Linked DNA regions of Homo sapiens: region 2 is linked to region 1. The links come from fine-mapping of genetic effects on gene expression. A gene starts in region 1. The other region holds a variant in brackets. All regions are shown on one strand. Distances are from middle to middle. Region 1 holds the start of STMN1 (stathmin 1). Region 2 overlaps PAFAH2 (platelet activating factor acetylhydrolase 2).

Region 1 (5,375 bases):
ATTTCCTCCAGGGAAAGATCCTTCTTCTTTGGAGGGGAAAGGGGGAATTCTGGAACAGATTCTTTTGACCGAGGGCTGAGAATCAGCTCAAAAGCCTGGCCTGAGGCACGCTTCTCCAGTTCTTTCACCTGGATATCTAGAATTGATTATATTTATAATTCAGAAAACCAGGATTCTCCTGTTCTAATAAACTGTACTATAATTTTCTAAAACCCAAATCAATTTAATGTATTAAACTAGGGCTGATGAGGAAAGTTGTGTTTTTTTTCCCCTTTTTATTCCTATCAGTCTACTGACACTAGGGGAAGATGTATTTGCAGGCAAGATATTATTATCTAAATACCATTTCCCAAGGCCAGGTACCATGGCTCATGCCTATAATCCCAGCACCGTGGGAGGCCAACATGGGAAGATCCCTTGAGCCCTGAAGTTTGAGACCAGCCTGGGCAACAAAGGGAAAGCCCATCTCTACAAAAAAAATTTTTTTTGATTAGGTGGGTGTGGTGGCCCATGTCGATAGTCCCAGATGCTATGGAGGCTGAGGTGGGAGAATCGCTTGAGCCCACTTGAGCTCCAGAAGTCAAGGCTGCAATGAGCTATAATTAAGCCACTGCACTCCAGCCTGGGCAACAAGGTGAGACCCTGTCTCAAAAAAAATAAAAACCATCTCCCAGAAAAACAAAGCTCAACATTTTTGGATTAATAAATACTGTTTTGAGACATCAGTATCTGACAATCGCTTTCATAAACAAAAGACTTGTGCAAACTCCACAATTTTGCTTCAGACTAAGCCAAACTGTCCAATAAACAATTACGAGCTCTCGGCACATTCAAGTGATAATCATTTTTAAATTCTTCTCCTATTCATAAAATAGGTTTTGGTAAGACCAAAACATAAGTGCCAAATCAAAGGCGAAGACCTGAGCCATCTCAATCTAAAATCATAAGCCCATTACAATTTCAGATTTTCCAAATAGATTACCTACCAGAAGAAGCCATGGTGAATAGAAGACAAGCGACAGGCAGTGTATTCTGCACAATCAACTGGGATAAGGAAAGTCCTGAAAATGATTTTCAAAAACATGCAATCACTTTCTTTGCCTTTCTATATGTCATCAACCCAAAAAAATCTCACATCACATCTACATACATCGTCAGAAAAATACGTGGAATAAAGACGTCTAAATTAACCACGAAAAAAATTATCAAAATCTACTAAATAAACATTGGGAAATATGACCTGAATATGATATTGGTTCCAGAAAATCAAGTTAACTGAGCTTTCTCGGTCATAAAACTCTTGGATTTTTAAAATCAGACAAAGTCACAAGGGTGAAGAATTTTTCCCCCATAAACTCTTTAACATTTCACCGAAACTGTAAGAAGATATTCCAGATTCAACTCAACAGTGCCCCCGGAGCCATCTTAATACTGCCTACAACTCATTGTGCAAATGAAATACCCACCCCTGCTTTGTCTGTGTCTGACGTGGTGGATAAGAAAACGCCCAAGCTAATAGTAACCAATAATGTTGAACTCCTATTGTCCCTCAGGTTTAAGCTTCCTTGCCCAACAGCAAGCAAAATGTTTATGAACCTCTAGATTTTGACTTATATTTGCTGCCGTTATGTCATGAAAAATGCTGTATCTCTTGTTGATCTTTTTAACATTATGACTTTTGTAGACGCCAGCTAGTACCAAAAACGTAGGATGACAGGTTCCCAAAAGCTAGGAATTAAAATCAGAGGCAGCGACAAGATTTAAGAAAAGCAGAGAATTAGACGCAGCACCGGACCCAGGATGGGCGTGGCCCTGGTCCGGGCGAGGAAAAGAGGACCGGTCGCCCCCGGCCAATCAGAGCACGCCTTGCGCTCCGGCCCCTGGCCCCGCCCCCTTCCTCCCCGCGCCTTTTCGAATCTCCCCGAACTCAACACCCCGGAGCCCGCGCGCGTGGGAAGGGGAGGGGTGGGCGGGGCTAACGGTCCAATCCGGGTAACTCCGCCCCTGCCTGACTCCCCCTGCGCGGACGCCCCCCCCAACTCCCGCCAAAAACACCTCCAGGCCGCCGCCACCACCCCCTTCACAGTTCAGCGGGTGGGGCAGGCCCCGGGAACAGGCCCCCGGGTGGTCCCGCGGTGAGCTCGCCACCGCCTCCCGCCGTCCCCATGCCCAACCTGCCGCCACCCACGCTGTCCGCGCGTCCGGCCGCGAAGACAGAAGAACCCTCGTGGGGCCCGGGAGCGCCGCCCCTCAATCACCAGCTGCGGTCGCCAGGGGACGGTCGCAGGGAGGGTCGCGGCCCTGGCTGCCCGCAGTTTGGTCCTAAAGCCGCTGGTCCCTGGGGCACCGCCCCGTCCCTTCAGACAATGGGGAACCCGGCGGGGCCCGCAGGGAAGGGAGGGAGGGAGGGAGGTAAACGAGGGCCCACGCCCCCTATTGTCTCCTCGACGGCACCCCGGAGCGGACGCCCGGTGATCGCCCAGCCCCCTGCCCACGAACAGCCGCGCCCCCGGAGAGCGGGGACAAAGGCGAGGCTCCGCCCGAGCCACACACAAAGCGGAGCGACCCCCGCCCACCAACCCCTCCGAGGCCCGCAGCCCCGCCCGCCGCCCTGCAGCAGGGGGTCGCTGCCACGGCCCAGCCCCTCCCGCCGACCGCGTCCCTCTTGCTGGCCTCAGCCAGCCGCCGCCTCCTCCGAGCCCCGCACCCACCTGCTCAGTCCGAGCCGCCTGACCACACTCTGAGCACCAACAGACCCGGGCGCGCACAAAAGCGCCAAACAGAGGCACGTGACCTCCGCGCGGGGCTCCGCATTGGCCGAGAGCGGCGGCACGTGCCGCCCCCGCCCCCCACAACCCGCGTGGAGCGCCGCCCCCCGGGACCCCGAAGCACCTCGGGAAGTGTAGTCCTGTCCCGGAGGGCAGGAGGACAATGCCGGGGGTTGCAGGGCGCCTGGGGAGCATCCCCAGGTGTGGGCCTGGGACTAGGGGGGTGGTCTCGCCGTGGAAGAGGGCGTGGCAGTGGACCCCGGACTAGGTCCGAACCAGCTCCCCATTCTCGAGAACAAGGGCAGGGCGGAGCAGGCGGAGGGCGGGGGGGTCCTTCCCTACCTTTCCAAACTTTGGCCGCCTGGACTCCACCTTGTAGAGCCACATGCCCGCCTCGCCCCAAGGGCAGCACTCGGACAGAGCAGTGCCCCTTCTAGTGCGCCACCCACATGGGTGCCTAAGACGCCCGAGCCCCTGTGACAGCACAATGCCACTCCACGCCCCTGCAGGGCCCCCTGCCCCCGGCACCCTACACCGACACCGGCGTGTCACCCATATTGTGACATCATCGTAATTTCTAATCCACTCAGCCCACAGGTCGCGGGCGTGGCCCTTCCCTCACTGTGTGCGTTCTTGCCAGCATCCTCAGGTTCCCGAGCCGGTGACCAGGGACCTGTGCGGGAAAGCGTGGGGCTCTGGAATTTGATCGCCTTTGGTCTAACAAAGCCACTCAGCTTAAATGCAGACTCCATCTGTTCTTCCAAGCCTTCTGCGGATGATAGGGGAGGAAGAGCAATAGCCGTTCTAGACTACACAGATTGCAGTTAAGTGTTGCTTTTGTTCTCAGAGCACGTGCTCCCCAGAGCAGCACTGGGTTCTTTTTAAAAATCGAAAAAGGAGCCACAAGGTCACTGTTCTCCCTGACCTGGATAGCTCAGAACCTCAGCAAAGGCACAAAGGAAATTGGTCTGACCGTGCCTTAGAATAACTGGCCCTTTCTCTCACAAAAAGGGGAAAAAAATAAATGAAATGAACATGGTCCCCGCCTCCTCCCATTCTCTGACCAAGACCGTGTCCTCGGTTGGTGGTCAATACACCAAGACACCTGCTTTGAGATCTTGACTAAGCAGAAGAGATATCTTTATTTTATTAATGAGCTGCATCTCCCCAAATCAAGAAACAAATGTGACCAACCTTCCTGAAACAACAGTCCTAATTTAGAAAGACTCTCATGCCTAGTTAGTCACCAGGGATGTGCCAGAGATAAAATACAACTAAGGGGTGCCCAAGACAATAAAAACTGGATCATACAAGCAGCAGCACACTACACAAAGCAAACAATTAGCAATGCGCTGTTGCCTGAAATATGCTTGTTGCGGCATTTTTTCCAACAATCGCCCTTGTGTGGGGTCGGCCTCCCCCCCAAGCCAATCGAAGTGGTTTTCACTTAGCCTGTGAGCAGGACCAGGAATAATTCAGATACTGAGCCTTGAAAGGCTTCTTCTCAGACCAAACTTAGCTTCAAAATGGCTAGGTGCTTCCGTCTGTCATTTTTCTGAACAGAATCTCAGACATCATTAGAAAAGTTGGAGAAGGATGGGCATGAGACCCCTCAGGAAAGCGACAGATAGGCAGGCAACACAAATGAGCAAGGAACCCAAGCCCAAGAGGTCCTTACCCACTGAACAGGCTTTTTATCTTGAAGTCTTTGTATTTGATCTGGAGGTTCACAGAGGAAGGTCCCACTCATTTAATGCATTTTTTTAAGTACAATAAATTGCCACACAAAAGTCTCACATTCCTGACTATTAATGTTGTGACAGAAAAAAGAAATAAATCTTTCAAAACACTGATAATTTGAAAGCACTTACACTGCTTCCCCCCACATTTTCTTTCTCCCTAGAGCAGATGTCTATTTCCATGGAAACCATAGCAAGGAACGTAGATGTTAGAACTCATGTTCATTTTTAATCTTTTTTAGCAATGCCACTTGGCTTCTGGGTTTGTTGGGAGATGCCTGGTTCTGCCAGTCTGTGACAATGTTCCAAGCTCCTCACAGCTGCTTGAGGACTGAGAGGGCTGGGTTAAAGTTTCCCCTAGAATGAGCCTTTGAATAAAAAGGTGCTTTTGAGGTGGGATTCCTGTCCTTTTATTATTATTATTATTATTATTATTATTATTATTATTATTATTATTATTTGACTTAAAAAAAATTGAGACAGGGTCTCACTATGTTGCCCAGGTTGGCCTCGAACTCCTGGGTTCAAGCAATCCTCTTGTCTCAGCCTCCCAAAGTGCTGGGATTACAGGCATGAGCCACCACACCCAGTCTGATCCTTGTTCTTTAGGGTGGGGCTGCCTTCCCAAGAGCCAGATCACAGCTCATTATTGTCAGCTTTTGTGGGTGTCCTATATAAGCCTTGGAATAGGAAGGGCTTTCAACTGTAAGGAGAGACAACAGTTTTGCCACTTCACCTTGGAGAGGGGCAGAATCGCCCTTCTCGAAAGCTTCCTAAAACGAACTTCAAGATCCACTCTCTTCTGAAGTGGCAGCAAGGAGTTAATGTTCACATCTTGGAACTGTCTATCTTTGCCCATAAGAATTAT
Region 2 (5,375 bases), 82 kb after region 1:
CTGTCCTAGAAGCCAGAGCAATAGAAGACAGATGTGGTCTCTGCCTTCAGAAGGCTTACAATCTAGTGAAGAAGACAGGCATTAAAGAATAATTACACAAGTAATTAATTCATTACAATTATGTTAAATGCTGAGAAGTATAGATTGTCTTATGAAAGCACATTCTGGAAAAATTAACCTAATATAATATAGGTGTCAAGATGGGTGTCCCTAGGACAATGACATCCAAACTAAGATCTTAAAGGTAATCTGGAATTAGCAGGAAAAGACGGAGAGGGGCAAGAGGAAGAGAAGAGCAGAACGGTGAATAGTCCAGGCAAAAAGATCAGCCACAAAGCATAGCACAGATGAAGACAGCGAGGGAGGAAATAACCCAGTGCCTTTCAGTAAGTGAAAGAAGGCCATTTTGTCTGGAGAGCTACACTGGGGCAAATAGCAAGGAACAGGCCTAGAAACTTTGTCTTGGACCTGCATTGAGGTAAGACCATGAAAAGAACTGAATTAGGTTCAAAGAGCTATTAAATTTTTTTTTTCTGAGATGCAGTTTTGTTCTTGTTGCCAAGGCTGGAGTGCAATGGCACAATCTTGGCTCACTGCAACCTCCACCTCCCAGGTTCAAGCAATTCTCCTACCTCAGCCTCCCAAGTAGCTGGGATTACAGGCATGCACCACCACACCTGGCTAATTTCTTGTATTTTTAGTAGAGACAGGGTTTCTCCATGTTGGTCAGGCTAGTCTCGAACTCCCAACCTCAGGTGATCCACCCACCTCGGCCTCCCAAAATGCTGGGATTACAGGCGTGAGCCACCGCGCTCGGCCAAAAATTTTTAAGTGGGAAAAAACATTCATTCATTCACTCAACAAATATTTATTGAGTACCTATTATATGCTGGGCACTGCTTTGAGTGCTGGAATGACAAGATCATATTTCGTTTTAAAATAGATCTCCCTGACAGGCGCGGTGGCTCATGCCTGTAATCCTAGCACTTTGGGAGGCTGAGGCAGGTGGATTGCCTGAGGTCAAGAGTTTAAGACCAGGCTGGCTAACATGGTGAAGCCCTGTCTCTACAAAAATTAGCTGGACATGGTGTTGGGTGCCTGTAATCCCAGCTACTTGGAGGCTGAGGCAGAAGAATCGCTTGAACCCGGAAGGCAAAGGTTGCAGTGAGCCGAGATCACGCCACTGCACTCCAGCCTGGGCGACTGATCGAGACTCTGTCTCAGAAAAAATAAAATAAAATAAAATAAAATAAAATAAAATAAAATAAAATAAAATAAAATAAAAAGATCTCCATGGCTACAATGTGGACAATGGTTTGGGGGCTGAGAGGCAAAAACAGATGCCTTTGAGATGTGCAACATTCTGGGACCTAAACTAGACATATATGTTGATGAACAGACAGAGAGAACATTCACAAGCTTAAATAAGAACACATGGGGCCGGGCGCAGTGGCTCACGCCTGTAATCCCAGCACTTTGGGAGGCCGAGGCTGCTGGCTCCACAAGTGCAGGGAGCAAGTCTCTTATTCGCTACTACGCCAATGCCACACACAGAGTGAACCCTCATGTTAAATAAATGACTCTTGGTGGGGCACAATGGCTCATGCCTATAATCTCAGCACTTTTGGAAGGCTAGAACGGGAGGATGGCTTGAGCTCAGGAATTCAAGATCAGCATGGGCAACACAGTGAGATCTCGTCCCTGAAAAAAAAAAAAAAAATTTAAAAATAGCCAGGCGTGGTGGTACGTGCCAGCTACTTGGTGGCTGAGGCAGGAGCACTGCTTGAGCCCAAGAGGTTGAGGCTGCAGTGAGCTGTGATCACACCACTGCACTCCAGCCTGGGCAACAGAATGAGACCCTGTCTGAAAAAAATAAAAATAAAATAGATAAATAAATGATGCTCTGATCACAAAGCTCATGCTCCTTCTAGCATTTCTGGGCTATCACATAGGAGGAAAGCTAAAAGTGTTTATTTATATAAATGCTGGACCATGAGAAGTAAAGCATATAAAGGCTGCTGAAAGGCTCCACAAGGTGAAAAGGACTTGAAAAAGGCCTTCTGGGGAAGGTGAACCCAATGCTATGGGACGAAGCAGATGGGAGATAAGACAGCTAGCAGATGGAAATGTCTTTTTTTTGCCCTTTGAGAATAAGCTAAGACTCAGCAGCTGTCACCAGGCAAGGAGTATGGCAAGGTCTGGGGGAAAGAAGCTCTTACCTGAAGGCTCCTAGGCCATGGGAGAAGATGATCAAGGGGTATCCAGAGTCCTTTGTCTTAAAGGGGCCATTCCAGCTAACAGGCAGGCGACAAGATCCTAGCAGAGACATGGGCTATAGAATATCTGGCTGCCCCAAAGCTGTTATCCCAAGGGCAGCCTGAGTATAGGTATGGGTGGGGACATGTGTTTCTCCCCTCTGGAGAACCACCATCGGCCCCTGAGCAGCTCAGGGCAGTTAATCACCTATTTCTTCTCCCTTTCTTCCCTAGGAAGAGTGAACACAACAGAAAATGGGAAGCTAAGCCAGGCGCAGTGGCTCACGCCTGTATTCCCAGCACTTTGGCAGGCCAAGGAGGGCGGATCACGAGGTCAAGAGACCAGCCTGGCCAAGTGAAACCCCGTCTCTACTAAAAA[T/C]ACAAAAATTAGCTGGGCGTGGTGGCGGGCTCCTATAATCCCAGCTACTCAGGAGGCTGAGGCAGGAGAATCACTTGCACCCTGGAGGCGAAGGTTGCAGTGAGCTGAGATTGTGCCATTGCACTCCAGCCTGGGCAACAAGAGCAAGACTCCATCTCACCAAAAAAAAAAAAAAAAAAAAAAAAAAAGGAAAAGAAAATGGGAAGCTAAGTCCAAAGTGGCAGTACTGAACCCGGGGTAAACTGCTGAGATGCCAAGGCACTGGGTGGAATTCCTAGGTGTGGGACCTTTGGGGGAAGTGGATGACTCAATGTTACCCTACTCAGAAGAGGGGTGACTGGAGGGAAAACTGCAGGAAACTGTACGCTCCTTGACAGTTAAGAATCTTTCTTTGATACACACAATAGCTGGCACAGAGTAGGAATTAATACATGCTAAACAAAGGAGCAATCAGTGCCATTTATGGAACACATTATATGTCCCAAGCACCGCATTAGAGGCTTTACGTACATCCCGTACTACAAACCCCCAAAGACATGTATTTAGACAGGTTCAGTAACTTGCCCAAACCCCATGGCTAGTAACTTATAAAGTCTGGATTTGAATCCAGGAAAGTCTAACTCAGTCACCAAAGCTCTTTCATATGTAATTCTCTCCCAACTCTCCATACCACACTGGCTAATGGATGCCCCTTACAAAAGCCTGGACACTGCAGGCTATAAGGTACTGCGTCCACCTGGGGATCTCCCAGGAACATAACCAAGCAACTGGGAAAGCATGCAGAGGTCAGGCCAGCCCTTACCCACCGCCAGGTTGAACAGCAAGCCCCCGCAGCGCTTATTAAACTGCAGGTACTCGGCCAGGCCAGTGCAGTACTCATAGCGGGGAATCCACAGGGGCTGCTCCATGGTCTCCTCTGCCTTTTGGCAGGGGTAGAAGAGTCGAAAGAAGCTCCCCTGTAGGAAAGAAGAGAGCAGCTGCTCAGAGCAAGGAGCCCAGGCTAGATTTCCCAACAGCCACACTCAGCAGGTGTTTGGGGCACCAGCAAAACAGGGCACCAAAACAGGGAAACTGAAGTTTCAATTAGCATGCCTGAATTTCACATTCAGAAATCTGGAAAGAAGCAATTTGATTTTTAGCATATATGTAAAGCTTACGTTATTTCAAATAGCCAACTGTATTTTGAATTACATTGTGGGAGGGGGCACCAAAAATATTTGAGTGCTTGGGACAATGAAAGATTTAAATCTGGCCCTGAACCTAGGCCTAGAGGAGCCCCAGGAGTTAGAGATTAGTTCTCGTGCTGAACAGGGTGGCCTTGGTAGCTCATCCAGGCCACTCTGCTCTAGGACAGCCCCTGGGAAGCAACAGCACACTCATTTTACATGGGAGTAGGTGAGGGGTTACTAGGAAGTGTGTGCCTCTCAAGGGAGACAGGAAGTCCAAGGGCTAGCAGAGAAAGACCTAGGAACTAAGCCAGGCACAGTGGCTCATGCCTGTAATCCCAGCACTTTGGGAAGCCGAGGTAGGAGAGTCGCTTGAGGCCAGGAGTTAGACATCAGCCTGGGCAACATAGCAAGGCCTCGTCTCTACTATATATACATATATATAAGATAGAGGACCAGTCCAGAAGTCAAAGCAGGAGGGGAAAACAGATCAAGGCAGGAGAGAGAAAAGGAAGCTGTCCCCCTACCCAGGTCAGGGAGTCCAAGGCCAAAGGCACACGCCCATGGCTCTTTCTCTCACACACTCAGATTATGATACGATTAAAACCCTTCCAAGATCAGGCATCTGCCCTCAAGAAAGGTGAGAGGATCTGCGAGCTGCCTCTAAAGCTAGAGTCCCCCCTTTCCTCCTAGGTGGAAAATGAACGCATTATCTCTGTCTATTGGGATGTTTCTAATGTTTGGAAAGAGGAAGAAAAAGCTCAGGAAGACAGACCTGGGGGCTTGATAACCAAATCCAGACCCGCTCTAATTCATTTTCCCCACCGTGGGAATACAGGATCAGACTTGTGATCAGTAAGTCACGGTGCCGGCAGAAGCAGTGCAAACAGAAGAAAGGGAGCTGGGGACACTTACCTGGAGATTCTGACCCTCCATCACATCCCCACAGCCTACGAGGTGGGGTCCTGTGACAGGTGGAAAGCCCACAGACTGGTTGACCCCCATTTCATCACCGGGTGAATCAAATGACTTGCCGGAGCTGAACTTGCTGGCTGGATGGGGGAACACAGAACAGCAGCCGCTTGCTGGTTTCCTCTCGGCTTCCTGTTGCTGAAATGTGTTATCTGTTACCCTGTCCACCCCTCCTTAGCACCTCATCCTCCCTGCCGTCGCTCATTAAATCTTGCACCTACTACTTTGCTACATTGCCTTTGCCAAGGTTGGGGGTTGTTTTTTATTTTGCTAGGGTGAGGAGATGGCTGGAAGACGAAAGAGAGCCATCCATACTCCTTACAGCCCATTAACGTATGTTTATCCAGCAGCTACTGCTGCAGAGACTGTCACACAGACCTTGCTCTCCTGAGGCTAATAGTAACCACTAAGATCCATTATTTACGGTTAGCACTGTACTGACCTCTTTATAGACACTATACACATTGCATCATTTCATTGTCTCAACCACTCTCTGAGGTAGGTACTTTTTTTTTTGAGACGGAGTCTCGCTCTGTTGCTAGGCTGGAGTGCAGTGGCATGATCTTGCTCGCTGCAACCTCCGACTCCCTGGTTCAAGCGATT

Evidence for each region. PIP is the estimated chance that this variant, and not a neighbour inherited with it, causes the effect.
Region 2: its variant is the best candidate, but not a certain one, in a credible set for the expression of STMN1 in whole blood (INTERVAL, PIP 0.60).

Annotation. Positions count from the first base shown.
Region 1 is chr1:25,903,678-25,909,052 of GRCh38, forward strand. STMN1 (stathmin 1) reads right to left here and starts at 2,742. Exons shown (of 5, transcript NM_005563.4): 1 at 2,712-2,742; 2 at 987-1,061; 3 at 1-136. The coding sequence starts at 999. MIR3917 (microRNA 3917) reads right to left here and starts at 2,777; the gene lies at 2,685-2,777. LOC105376885 (a long non-coding RNA gene) reads left to right here and starts at 2,873. Exons shown (of 2, transcript XR_947102.1): 1 at 2,873-2,969; 2 at 3,359-4,566. RefSeq lists silencers at 1,681-1,975, 1,755-2,174, 2,565-2,654, 2,675-2,984.
Region 2 is chr1:25,986,012-25,991,386 of GRCh38, forward strand. It overlaps PAFAH2 (platelet activating factor acetylhydrolase 2), which reads right to left. Exons shown (of 11, transcript NM_000437.4): 2 at 4,716-4,852; 3 at 3,437-3,590; 4 at 2,220-2,316. The coding sequence starts at 4,805. Among named protein-coding and RNA genes, the nearest start is that of PAFAH2, 9.4 kb to the right of the region's middle. The variant T/C (reference allele first, on the strand shown) is at 2,635.